Linked DNA regions of Homo sapiens. The protein of the gene in region 2 binds, or shares a complex with, the protein of the main gene of each other region. Each region holds a gene or a part of one and is shown on either strand. Other genes may lie near its edges.

Evidence for each region.
Region 1: the proteins of UBE2O (region 2) and NAP1L1 are in contact, whole or in part, in a cryo-EM structure (PDB 7UN6), measured with the Homo sapiens proteins. Residues at the interface, in NP_071349.3 of Homo sapiens: Ser225, Asn226, Val282, Lys283, Pro284, Val285, Lys289, Ser290, Lys291, Phe292, Arg293; in NP_001317160.1 of Homo sapiens: Arg333, Arg337, Thr343, Gly344, Glu345, Ala346, Ile347, Asp349.

Annotation. Positions count from the first base shown.
Region 1 is NC_000012.12:76,046,601-76,053,784, forward strand, and holds part of NAP1L1 (nucleosome assembly protein 1-like 1), read right to left. Parts: coding exon 7,170-7,184; intron 6,751-7,169; coding exon 6,605-6,750; intron 6,511-6,604; coding exon 6,491-6,510; intron 4,054-6,490; coding exon 3,931-4,053; intron 3,186-3,930; coding exon 3,156-3,185; intron 2,926-3,155; coding exon of another isoform or gene 2,863-2,925; exon of another isoform or gene 2,651-2,862; coding exon 2,600-2,650; exon of another isoform or gene 1,989-2,599; intron 1,865-1,988; coding exon 1,829-1,864; 3' UTR 1-1,828. UniProt on the Homo sapiens protein: Histone chaperone that plays a role in the nuclear import of H2A-H2B and nucleosome assembly.
Region 2 is NC_000017.11:76,388,845-76,394,225, forward strand, and holds the end of UBE2O ((E3-independent) E2 ubiquitin-conjugating enzyme), read right to left. Parts: intron 3,270-5,381; coding exon 3,066-3,269; intron 2,970-3,065; coding exon 2,912-2,969; intron 2,770-2,911; coding exon 2,099-2,769; 3' UTR 612-2,098; downstream 1-611. UniProt on the Homo sapiens protein: E2/E3 hybrid ubiquitin-protein ligase that displays both E2 and E3 ligase activities and mediates monoubiquitination of target proteins. Negatively regulates TRAF6-mediated NF-kappa-B activation independently of its E2 activity.

The DNA.
Region 1 (7,184 bases), on a different chromosome or scaffold from region 2:
GAGAGGAATGGATAGCACTACAAACAATGTGTTCACATTCCAAGACCTTAACACTAACTTCTCAGAAAGGAAGTTTTCATTACCTCTAAAAATCAATTCAATGTAATTTTATTAAGAGCAGGAAATCTAGACCTTCCTCTAATGACAATCCAATAATCCACCCTCACTGTCAAAAAAAAGTTCAACCCCAAAATTAACAGTAATTAGCCTGAGGTATTGTAAATGTGGCTCTACAGTCTGAAATTTAATGGCATCTTTTGTCAAAAATAGTCTTATTTCCACTTTAAGTCTCATGACTACAATACTATAGTGCTATCCCTGTAGTATTTACAATACAGTCATCAAAAATATCTGAAAACAAATCTTGGACCTTGTGAAATAGTGCATCCCTCCACTTCTATAAAAATAGGAGCCACACAAAGATCTAAAAAGAGTGCTGACTGCCCAGATCCAGAACAGAGGTACTTAACACCTTTGTTTTCCAGTTTAGTTATCAAAGCGTGGTGTGAACAAAATGCTTAGTGTCACACTGGCATTACAAATAGGCCCAAAATTTTGAGCTTTTAACAAGATTGAGAAACATTATATGAGATTTAACTCAATATGCCTTAACACATCCATGAGGTAGTTAGGTAAACAGTACTACCCATTTTAATTACACAGTAAACAGAAGCACGGGTAAGTGACATACTCATACTTTAAGCAATAAGAATTAGAAGAAACCATAGAAGCTTGGGGCCTTCTCTCTAGCTCTAACCCAAAGAAAATGAATTTTTTTTTTTTTTTTTAAAAGAAAACAGCATCAATCACTTAAGATTTTCTTCCTCTTTTTTTTTTTTTTTTACACTTGCTTATTAGTATAGCATCTCGTTCCAAAGCTGGTACCTTTTCTTCAACAATGTGTTAAAAACTGAGTATAACCCTTAATTCAAGGTAGGCCTCTACTTCTACCTGAATTGGTACAAAATTAAGACATTATCTTGTAAGAACTAAAATTGTATTTGAAATTTTTATTTTAGCTGCAAAAACAAAAACAAGCAAACAAACAACAAATAACTTGAAAATAGGCTTGTCAAATGATGTAAATTCATCCTTTCCAGGGAAGCAGAAGGTAGACCCTACCACAAAGAAAAGATGCTTAGTTAATGGAGGTTAAATTTAAAAATACAGTTAAATTCAGGCTAACTTCTGAAAATCCCGTTTTATTCACCTCACTGTGGTACCAGTAACTATACTGAGTCAGGTTACTTTACAGTTAACTATGTCACCTAAAACACAATAATCCATTAACACTCTAATAACAGTTATTGGGTGTGGTCATACTGGAAATTCTTAACCATATAGTTGTCTTGCCAATTTTTTTTTTAAACAATAAATTGTCTTAGTATAAGTCACTGCATTTCTGTAACAAAGTAATGAAAGGCACAGCTAATCCAAGCGGACTTAACCCTATTCAACAACCAGCTGAAAAAATACTTTGGTTCTTCAAGGAAAAAATTACAAAAAAAAAAAAAAGGTATTTCCTTTAACAGTTGTTAATTTTCATAGCTGTACTCCAAGAGCTACATAAAAATATTCCAGAAGAACCAAATTATGTAGCAATGAATGAACATGCGTGACAGAATTTGTGCATTCAACATAGCTGGCAGAAAAACTAGTTAAAATGCTAGGTAGAACAAATTGGTCTTTAAAATATCAGTTTCCTGTCCTTTAAAAAAAAATTACCTAGTCTACCAAGAAAATACAAAAACATAAGGCTGTAAGTAAATAAGAGTTGTGTTTAGGCTATTACAGTGCAGGTTATCCTCAAGGCCACATACATCCTGCTTCACTGCTGCTTGCACTCTGCTGGGTTTTGATCCTTCTGTTAAAGGAAAACAACAAGTCAATCTATCTTCTTCTACCTGCTTCAGTGAATTTCTCAATAGTAATTACTGCCTTAATTATAACAGTAGCTCACTGTTGTCAAAAGAAATGGTATAGGACAATGGTGGTAAATTATTTATTTTATTAGCAAGTCACTGAAATGCTAAAATCAAGCTCAAACTTTACACTGTAGAATTAACTCCATAAAATGTGACACACGCTAAACCATAATCTTAAAAAAATAAAGTTACCAAGCAATTTATGTTAGTTATATTACCAATCAGCTTTGTTTTTGCTAATCCTAATATAACAAATTCTCAGGAATAATAGACTAGGACTCTCAGGGACTGAGTAAGAGTAGTTGGAAGGATCTAACAAACTGCACTGCTCCCCAGTTCCCGAACACTCCTACAACCAGATCTTTTAAAAACCTTTATTTTCTAATGCTTAAAAACTGTTACAAATCGTCCCATTAAAATAGAATCCTAGGGTTCACTGTACCTGAAACTATAAAAAGCACGAAGTCCAAACAAAAAACAATGTTTTTTAGAAAAACGTCCACTGAAATTATGTGTACTGTTCACAATGCCAGTGGGACTGAAAAAACAAAGTTATCCAGTCAATAGGCTTTATTTATTAAAGACTTTAACGGAGAGAAACTTGATATTCAAAAACACCAACTCTTACTTTAGCTATCTTAAATTTAATAGAAAGCAGCACTAATTTTGCTCACCTTTGGGTCATAGTCTGGATCATTTTCCTCATCTCCTTCTTCTTCCCCTTCCTATATTAAAGTTCAAAATGCATCCATGAAGTATGTACATAGTAGGTAAACTGGCTCATAATGTAGGGAAAATTTAATACAAGTTACTCTACGGATCAACAGATTTTCATGATTACAGACTTTGATGATAATACAATTTAATTTGAAAGCTTCTAATATGAAAAATTTCCCAACACAACTTGAGACATCCAGACAGCTTTTATTGAAAATAGTTACTGCAGCCAACGTTGGAAAAGTTTACTGCAGCTTTTGACTTCTTCAAAGAGCTGATAACCCTGCAGCAGAACAAAATTATTTGAAATAAAAAAATGTTGCTGAGTTTTGCAATTTATTTATTGAAACCTTATACATACATTGTTTGGCTGTAGAATTCTAAAATCATGTTTTCCAAAATGTTTTTATCCCAAATCACAGAATGATTATAGCAAAGGAATACATAAGTCATTCAATTTGCTTCTCAATGTGTTAACCACAGAGAATTATTTGCTCATTTGGTAAACATTACCTCATCCGCTTCTTCACCTTCTTCATCATACTGAAAAGGAAAAACAGCGTTAAGTGTTGAGTGAATGTAACACACATTTCAGAGTAGCATCAGTAACATTTATCACTGTATAAACTAGTGTCTAAAAAGAGAAAACCTACTTTCCTATCAAGGGGCTGATTATAAATTAAAACACATAGTAGCTGCAAGAATCACTCTGCTCACTGCCAATTTATAAAATTAAAGAACAGAGTACAATCATGTGGATAAAGTGGATGATCAGACAAGTATTACTGTAAATATTACTCACCTACACTTAAGTGTGGAATGCACTGTACGAAAAGGACCTAAAGCCTACTCTAACAATTGCCGTTGAGCAATAAACATATTCAAAACATCTATATGCAACCTAATCTTAACCTAACCATCATTCAATACTACCTTGAATAGAAATTCTATGCCTCCCAGTAAATGTTTTCTTGTGCACTAAAGAAAGTCCTAGCTCTGTGAAGTCAAGGCAAGGGCATAATAGATCTATAGCACTAACCAAACATAAAAAAGTTTCATAAACTCAGAACAATCTTATTAGCAGAAAATTAAAAGCTAAGATAAATGAATCCAAAAATCCTAAGGAGACATACTTAAAACCCAGAAAAGCTATATACAGAACATCAGTAATTAGCCTAATTTTGAATTATATTATGTCCTGCTTCTTAAAAACTAAACTAATCTATTACCAATTCTGACCACTATACCCTCAACCAATTATTTCTTTGCAGGATTCAAATTCGCTTACATCATCATCATCATCTTCAATAGCTTCTCCAGTAAAATATAACACTGATCTTGGGATTATACGCTCACGTAAAAAGTGACCAATTTCGAAGTCTGCAGCAAGGATAGCTTCAGCATCATCATCCTATTTTTAAAGGAAAACAAAAGCAGAAAATTTAGGAATAACTGTGTTACTTAATTTGGCACATGTAAGACTCTTAGAGGCTGGGTGTGATGGCTCACAACTGTAGTCCCAACACTTCAGGAGGCCAAAGTAGGAGGATCACTTGAGCCCAGAAGTTCAAGAGCAACCTAAGCAACATAGTGAGACGCCCCCTGCGTTTGTACAAAAAATAAACAATTAACTGGGCAGGGTGGCACACGCCTGTAGTCTCAGCTACTTGAGAGGCTGAGGTGGGAAGATTGCTGGAGCCCAGCAGCTTGAGGCTGAAATGAGCTGTGATCACACCAGTGTACTCTAGCCTGGGCAACCGAAAAAAAAAAAAAAAAAAGACAGACTCTTCAGTTTAAATTATATGATGAAGGGAAGAAATGCTCAACTTTACTTTTTACTTTCCATGATTTTTCTCACACCATGTTAACAAATGATTTGTCATTTTTAAATTTCCTTAATAACTTTTCCAAGTTTTTAACAAAAAGAAAATAAGCTAGCAGGCCAGTATGCATACTAAGATAAATTGTGAAGAATAAAAATTAGAACTGCTTAGTTTTTGCTGGTTTAAACATAAATACATAAAAGCAACTGTTACATGTCCGCAATTTTCCTTTTAAAATATTATTGAAAACACCAAATAGAAAAATAAAAAAAAAAACCCTTGGGTTATTGTTAATATATAGTTATTGTTAATATTGTTAAGTACATAGCAAATAGAAGGACATAATAAACAACCACAGAGGATCACTTTATAGTTCCTAAAAGACAGTACCCAAACAGCTGTACAGTTTTAAGTCTACTAATCCCAAATGAGACAGTCCTAGTTCAGAAAGACAATATACTAACTAAATCAGGTGCCCCTAGCACTTTTCTTTTTTAGAGACAGGGTCTCGCTATGTTGCCCAGGCTGGCCTCAAGTGATCCTTCCACCTCCGCCACCAGAGCAGCTGGGACTACAGGTGCCTGAAGCTGTACCTGGCTTAGGATTTCTATTTAATAGAAAAGCACAGGGCAAAAGTGGGTCTGACATTATTCACAATTAAAATAATCCCACTTTGGCCTGGCTCATGCCTGTAATCCCAGGACTTTGGGAGGCCAAGGCAGGCAGATTACCTGAGGTCAGGAGTTCAAGACCAGCCTGGCCAACATGGTGAAACCCCGTCTCTACTAAAAATACAAAAATTAGCGAGTTCAATGGCACGTGCCTGTAATCCCAGCTACTCGGGAGGCTGAGGCAGGAGAATTGCTTGAACCCGGGAGGCAGAGGTTGTGGTGAGTGGAGATCGCACCACTGCACTCCAGCCTGGATGACAGAGCAATACTTCATCTCAAAAAAAAAATAATAATAATAAAATAAAATAATCCCACTTCTATGATACTAAACAATGATACAAGTTCTATGATACTAAACAATGAGCACACCCTCTGTGAATTCCATGAATGTTTGAGTCAACAACATAATCTAATAAATAGAAAAATCCAAAAGGGGGTGGGGAGGAATTCAAACCACAGGTGGAGGTTTTCTATCCTTAACTAGACTGTTTTGTCATCATCAATATTTAGTAACAAACAAACAAACAAACAAAAAAAAACCCCAAACTTGAACACAAACTCCAACCCATCCACTGATATGAAAATAGTGTGATGCTCTATCTTAATACTTAAAGTAGTTTTTCTCACCTGAAATTCACACTGCTTTATGTTCTCTTTTTTTGTCCTATAAGCCAAGCCAGAAATACTTACTTTTGCCTTTTACAAATTTGTTCTAAGTCTTAGCCAAGAGTATTCCAATTCAAAAGTATTCAGTTTAGGTTAATTTCTAATTCCATATATGTACAAACTATTTAAACTATCTCAGTTAATTTAAATTCAAAAACATGCCCAAAAGAAAACCAAATTCAAAACATACCTGCCCTACCTTGTGTGTATAGACTTTCTTTAAGGTTGTTCCTCAGTTCAGTCTATATGGCAGGAACATTTCATGTTCTTTGCCATATGCCATATATGTGAACATACTTAGTCACAATATGAAACCATATTTACATTGGAGTAACAAATTCAGGAATGAATTTGAACCATAATGTAGTTAGGAATGTAACAGTATAAGTGACTTAATATATTCTGGTTTTACTAAGGAAGACAACAGTTTTGAAAAGTTAAATCCCTCACAGCAATATGTGAAGTTTCAAAAGAAAAGAAAACCTTAAGCTTTTTATCTCAGTGTTTCTCAGCAGAAGCACTGATATAATTTTGAATGGAATTATTTTTCATATCCAAAAAGTCTGCCCCATGCATTGTAGGCCTCAGAACTCAATGTAACAACCATCCCACTCTCCATTTTTGAAATTCAGTGCTTTAATTTCAAATATACTTAACAATTCAATAAATATATAACAATTCAACTTACCAGATCTCCACTCTCAGGAACTGCAAAATTGAGAAAAGAAATTACAATGAATAAGAAGCTAAGCAATGCTTTTTATAAAACAACCGTTAATACTCAAGCTAAAACATTATTTACCTTCAGGAGGGGCAAAAAAGTTAAAGAAAGAGTCATTGGAAACTGTTTTAGTCACAGTACGAACTGTCCCACGTCCCTTGTGTTTCTGCTTCTTCTTAATAGTTTTCAAAGTGACATTCTTTCCTTTTTTCCAATCTATCTGGCACCTTGCAAAACAAAGAAGAAAAATCTATTACAATTGACAATCTTTCAACTGCTAAACTTTTAGAAGTAAATGTTCTATTTAGATTTCAAATTTTAGAAGGGTGAATTGCTTCAAATGTTTTCTATAGCAGTATAAAGGGAAAAATTTTATTTCTAAGCAAATATTTAAAATAAACACATTTACAATTAGCACAAACACATAGTATAATTTAAAGAAGCATTCCTCTGCAAAAATATATGTGAGACAGTCATGGGTCCAAGGAGAATTACAGGAAACTTGATAAGCACTTTTCAGAAAACATATTACCAAAATGTTCAGAGACAGACTATGTACATATGTAACTGAAAATAACCGAGTATACAAATCAAGTATAACAAAAACAGAAAAAACATTTTGTTAAGGTAGTAAAATTAAACTCACCCTGTACAACCCATA
Region 2 (5,381 bases):
CTGCCTCCCAAAGTGCTGGGATTACAGTCATGAGCCACCACACCTGGTATCTTACCTTTTTAAAAGGAGTCTGTCATCCACCACAATGGTCTAGGGTTCTAGGGTTCTCCCAGCCTCCCTCAGCTGTCTCCTTTCCCTACCTGTCCCTGTGGAGGAGTGCCAGGCAGGAGTGGAAAGAATGTGGCAGGGAAGGATCCATCCAAGTCTAAACTGGGCAACCATTTTGGCTTAGCGTCCAGGAGTTGTGGCACCTGTCCACCGCCAGGTGCTATGACGTCGGCTCTCCCAGAACCTGGAAGGAGCTGAACTGGTCAGTTGTAGGTCTCTGGAGACTACAGCTGCTGGGAGGCTGCTCTAAGCTGGCTCCTGAGGGGCACACCACCGGCCAGGAGGAGGCCAGAGGACTGCTCCAGGACAAGAAGTACAAAAGGCATGCAAGCAGGTCTGGCAGGCAGAGGGCAGTGTGGGCGGGTGGGGGTGCTGTTCACAGTGGCCCCCACCTGGCCAGGAAAGCCAGGACCCACTGCCACATGCCTTCCCTGGCAACAAACAAGGTCTTTCCTTCCCCAGGAAGGGTGTGTGTGAGGGACACAAAGGCAACGGAGCCCAGATGAATGGCAGAGGGAGGTTTAATGGTGTCACCTTGTCTTGCTAATGAGCCAACACAAAAAAAAAAAAAAAAAAAAATGCAAGTAAAAAAAAGTTTAATCACACAGCACTTTATACAGATATCGTAAGCAGTAGGCATTCACATCTCCACATGTACAATGCACTGGGAAGCACAGCCCCACCAGTCACTCCGGGTGTTTCTCAAACAAGATACCGACTCGGTTCCAAATGCCACGGTGTGTGGTCCGGCTCCATCCTCCCGCAGCTCTGCTGGCTGGGCGGTCACAGCACAGCACAGGTGTGGAGCCCACTTAAGGCTGACAAGACGCATCATGCTTTGGCTTTTTTTTTGTCTTTTTTTCTAATAAGAGTTAATATCTTTGCTTTTGAGTTTTTTTTCCAACCTTAAATATTACATACATACACCAAAAATTACATAGCTGCAATGTGCTCAACAGCATCCTCTCGGCCTGGAGCTTCACATTATCAAAAGCTTAGAAAACTTGTAAACCTCTGGGCCTGTCTCTGGGCACTAGGAGAGCCCCCGCCGGCCGTCCCCTTCGGATTGAGCCTGCAGTTTGTAAGCGAAGGGCTGACAGTAGGCCTTCTAGTCCAAGAGAGGGCTGGCTCGCTTGGAGTTCAGTGAGCTGCACGCCTGTCCCAGTGTGACCATGTGATGGGGGAGGGGCCCTAGCACTTGCCCTGGCCTTGTGCAGCTGCTCTTGCCCCCAGCAGCCTCCGACAGAAGAGCAAGGCACCTATAGCTGTTGCTTTCCCTGCAGCTCCCTGGTCCTCAACTCCATGTGCATGTGTGAAGGCCACCACCTCTCCTGGGCGTCACCCGGAACCTAGCCTGGTCCCAACCTCTCTTAGAGAGCAAGTTCAACAGGCCTGAGGGCTATAACGTGGTCGACAGGCCATGTATAGCCGGGAGTCAGTGACAGCAGCTACAACTCCCAAGGGATAGTGTTGACGCTGGAGGACTAGGGAGGACCTGGGTGGTGGTGGCAGCAGGAGGGTCTGGGACACAGGGAGGCTTGAGTTGAACTAAACAGGTTGAAAGGGACCAGGGGAATTGTTGGCGCAACCCACACTTCATGCAAGGCACATGTGCTCTCCTGCGGGTCTGCAGGGAACCGGCCCAGAGAGCCCCGCGGCAGGCCCTGGAACACCCGCCTCTGACCTGAGAAGGGGCAGCAAGGGAGCAAGTGCCGGACATTCTGCTGGGGTGACAAATGGAAAATCGGCAACAGGGTTCCGATTTTCTTTGCCACAGGGGACCCGCCTGTTGAAAGCTCGCTTCAAAATAGAAACGGCAGCATCTCAACACACTTCTTGCACTTCAGCATCAAACTCACCTTGGGGAGAAGAGGGCAGTGGGTTTGCAGTGGGGACAGAGGGGCATGGGAAGAGGGGTGATTCCGGGGGGGAGTGAGCAGGCGGCGGCTGGCCTCTCCCACGGTGATGCTCTTTCCTCTGTGCCTGGCAGCTACTTGTCCTCTGTGCACTCCGGCATGCCTGCCTCTAGCAGGGCAGCCCGGAACTGCGTCAGGACACCCCGGATGCTCTTGATGAAACCCTTGGAAAGTGGGAAGAGGGGGAAGCCGATGTCAGGGTAGCCACTCTTCTCAGGTAAGAAGCTCCGGTAGCTCTTTCTCCGCTTCTTTGGTTTCACACTGGGTGGCACCGATGCGTCTGGTGCGGTCTCCGAAGTCTGGTCTGTGTGGTCCCTGCTAGCTGAGGCCAGGCCCTGGGCACCGCCCTCTGAGTCTGAGCCCTGGGAGGCCTCTCCTGGGGCTGGCCCTCCATCCTCAGGTTCTTGTTGGCCGGAGTCTGACAGCTCGGCTACAGCTGGGGGCTCTGGCGAGCTGCTGGCCTTGGGCACCCCGTTGGGCAGTGCCTGGGCCTTCTCCAGCAGGGCATGGGTTTCCAGCCAGGACTCGATACGGTTCACCAGCCGCCAGCCACCAGTGCTAAAGTGTTGCCTGATCTCCTGCTCAAAGACCTCGGGGGGCCGCCGCACCAGCTGGGTCATGGACTGCACCACGCGGATCAGCGCCATCTCATTGTAACAGCGACTGTTTTCATAGCCTTCCTGCAGGCCTCGGTCACTGTCGAAGCCGGCTTCGTTGTAGTATGGTTCATTTACCAGGATCAGACCTGTGTGGGCGGGACACCTTCCCTCAGTGGGTGAGAGAGGCCCACAATGCAGGCCTACCCTCCACCTGCCAGGGGGACTATCAGAGTCACTTTCCTCCACCGGCCCTCCCTTGTCCGCACCCCCGCTTCAGCCCAACTGTACCTTGGATGGAGATGAGCACCTGGAGAAGGCTGGACTTGCTTGTCCACCTCTCTGTCCCCTGAAACACACAGGGCACCATCAATTCTGTTCCCCAGGCCCCTATCCACCAGTGGCTCTTCCTCCTTCTTGGCTGGGGGCCTGGCCCTATACTCACCTTTCCAATCCAGGTGCCCAGGAGGCTGACACACACCTTCCCATTGTCATACAGGTTGGGGTTCAGGCGGCCACTGCATTGGGAGAGGTAGCAGAAGTGGGGGGGCACGGCTGGGTAGATGTTGGGGAGCTGGATGTCAAACAAGTAGAGGCCATCCTCGTAGGGGGTTCGAGTGGGGCCCTTGATGAGAGCTGAGAAGAGGTCCTAGGTAGGGAGGGAGGGAGGGAGGCCAAGGTTGGCAGGGGTGGAAGGGGGTGTCCTACATGTGGCATCTGCATCTGCACCTGCTCTTTCCCAGGACACTGTGCAGATCACGCAGGAAGAGCAGCACCTGGGACTCCAGATGCCACCAGCAGTGGAGAAGCTAAGGACAAATCTCTCTCTGCAGAACAGCCTGGAATCTTTTTTTTTTGAGACAGGGTCTTGCTGTGTCCCCCAGGCTGGAGTACACTAGTGCAATAATGGCTCACTGCAGCCTCCCAAGTAGCCGGGACTACAGTGTGGGCCACCGTGCCCAGATGATTTTTTTATTTTGTGTACAGACAGGGTTTCACTATGTTGCCTAGGTTGGTCTCGAACTCCTGGGCTCAAGTGATCCGCCTGCCTCGGCCTCCCAAAGTGCTGGGTTTACAGCCCTGAGCCGTCACTGTGCCTGGCCCTTGCCTGGAATCATTGAACCCTGGCTAAGAGAAATACTCGAAGTGAGTTTTTATCTTATCAGGTGTTTTTCCTCATAAATCATTACTTTAAGACTGTATTCCAGCTGGGCGCGGTGGTTCGTGCCTGTAATCCCAGCACTTTGGGAGGCCGAGACGGGTGGATCACTTAAGGTCAGGAGTTCAAGAGCAGTCTGGCCAACGTGGTGAAACCCCGTCTCTACTAAAAATACAAAAATTAGCCAGGCGTGGTGATGCATGCCTGCAGTCCCAGCTACTCGGGAGGCTGAGGTGGGAGAATTGCTTCAACCCGGAGGCGGAGGTTGCAGTGAGCCGAGATTGTGCCATTGAACTCTAGCCTGGGTGACAGTGCGACGCTATCTCAAAAAAAAAAAAAGATTGTATTCCTCAGCCAGACGTGATGGCTCACACCTGTAATCCCAGCACTTTTGGGAGGCCAAGGTGGGAGGACTGCTTGAGGCCAGGAGGTCAAAACCAACCTGGGCAACATAGTGGGACCCTATCTCTACAAAAAATAAAAAATTAGCTGGGCATGGTGGTGCATACCTACAGTCCCAGCTACTCAAAAAGCTTAGATGGGAGGATCACTTGACTCCAGGAGGCTGAGGCTGCAGTGAGCTATGATCACACCACTGCACTCCAGCCTGGGCGACAGAGTGAGACCCTGTCTTTTATTTTTTGGCTTATGTGTTTTTTTGAGATGGAGTATAGCTCTGTCCCCAGGCTGGAGTGCAGTGGTGTGATCTTGGCTCACTGCAACCTCTGCCTCCCAGGTTCAAGCGATTCTCTGCTTCAGTCTCCTCACGCCCGGCTAATTTTTTGTATTTTAATAGAGACGGGGTTTCACCATGTTGGTCAGGCTGGTCTCGAACTCCTGACCTTGTGATCCGCCCACCTTGGCCTCCCAAAGTGCTGGGATTACAGGCGTGAGCCACCACGCCCGGCCAACCCTGTCTTTTAAAAACAAAACAAAACAATTCCTCTAAACACCTGCTCCAACCCTTATCCCCAACAAGGCAAGTAGTACAAGCAGTTTCAAGCTGAAAGGCAGTTCCAGGCTGGTGAGGCCTGGGGAAGGGGGGATGGTCTCACAACCAGAAGCTGACAGTGAGGGTTTGAACTCCATGGGGGAGGTTGGGAGACCACCGCTCCACAGACATCTGGAATCTGTGCATCTATTTGCGTGCATCTGTGCACACACGCGTGTGTGTGGGATCTCAACTGACAGGGCAATGGGCGAGGTCAGTGATGAGCTGAGAAGCAGGGAAGGCAGAGCGCTAGCTGGGGCGAGGGAACCTCTGCACATGCTCTTATCGGTGCCACCCTGGGAGCCTCCAGGGAATGCACTACTTTTCTTCTCCTGAGTGAGATGTGGGGAAAACAGAACAAAACAAAAAATACTGTTTCCATCTTCCCTCAGCAGAGCTGAGACAGGCTAGAATTTTCAAAAGGAATTTTCCTACAACCCAAGAAAAAACCAAAAGCGTTATTAAGAATCTCAAGCAGCACTGGGCCTTAGGACTCTGCCTAGCCCTGTTCCAGGGTTGTGGCTACTCCGGGCCCATCTCAACAGCATCCCGCTTGGCTGCTCTCAGGATCGCTTGGCTGCTCTCAGGATCCCTGCTCTTTCTTTTCTTAC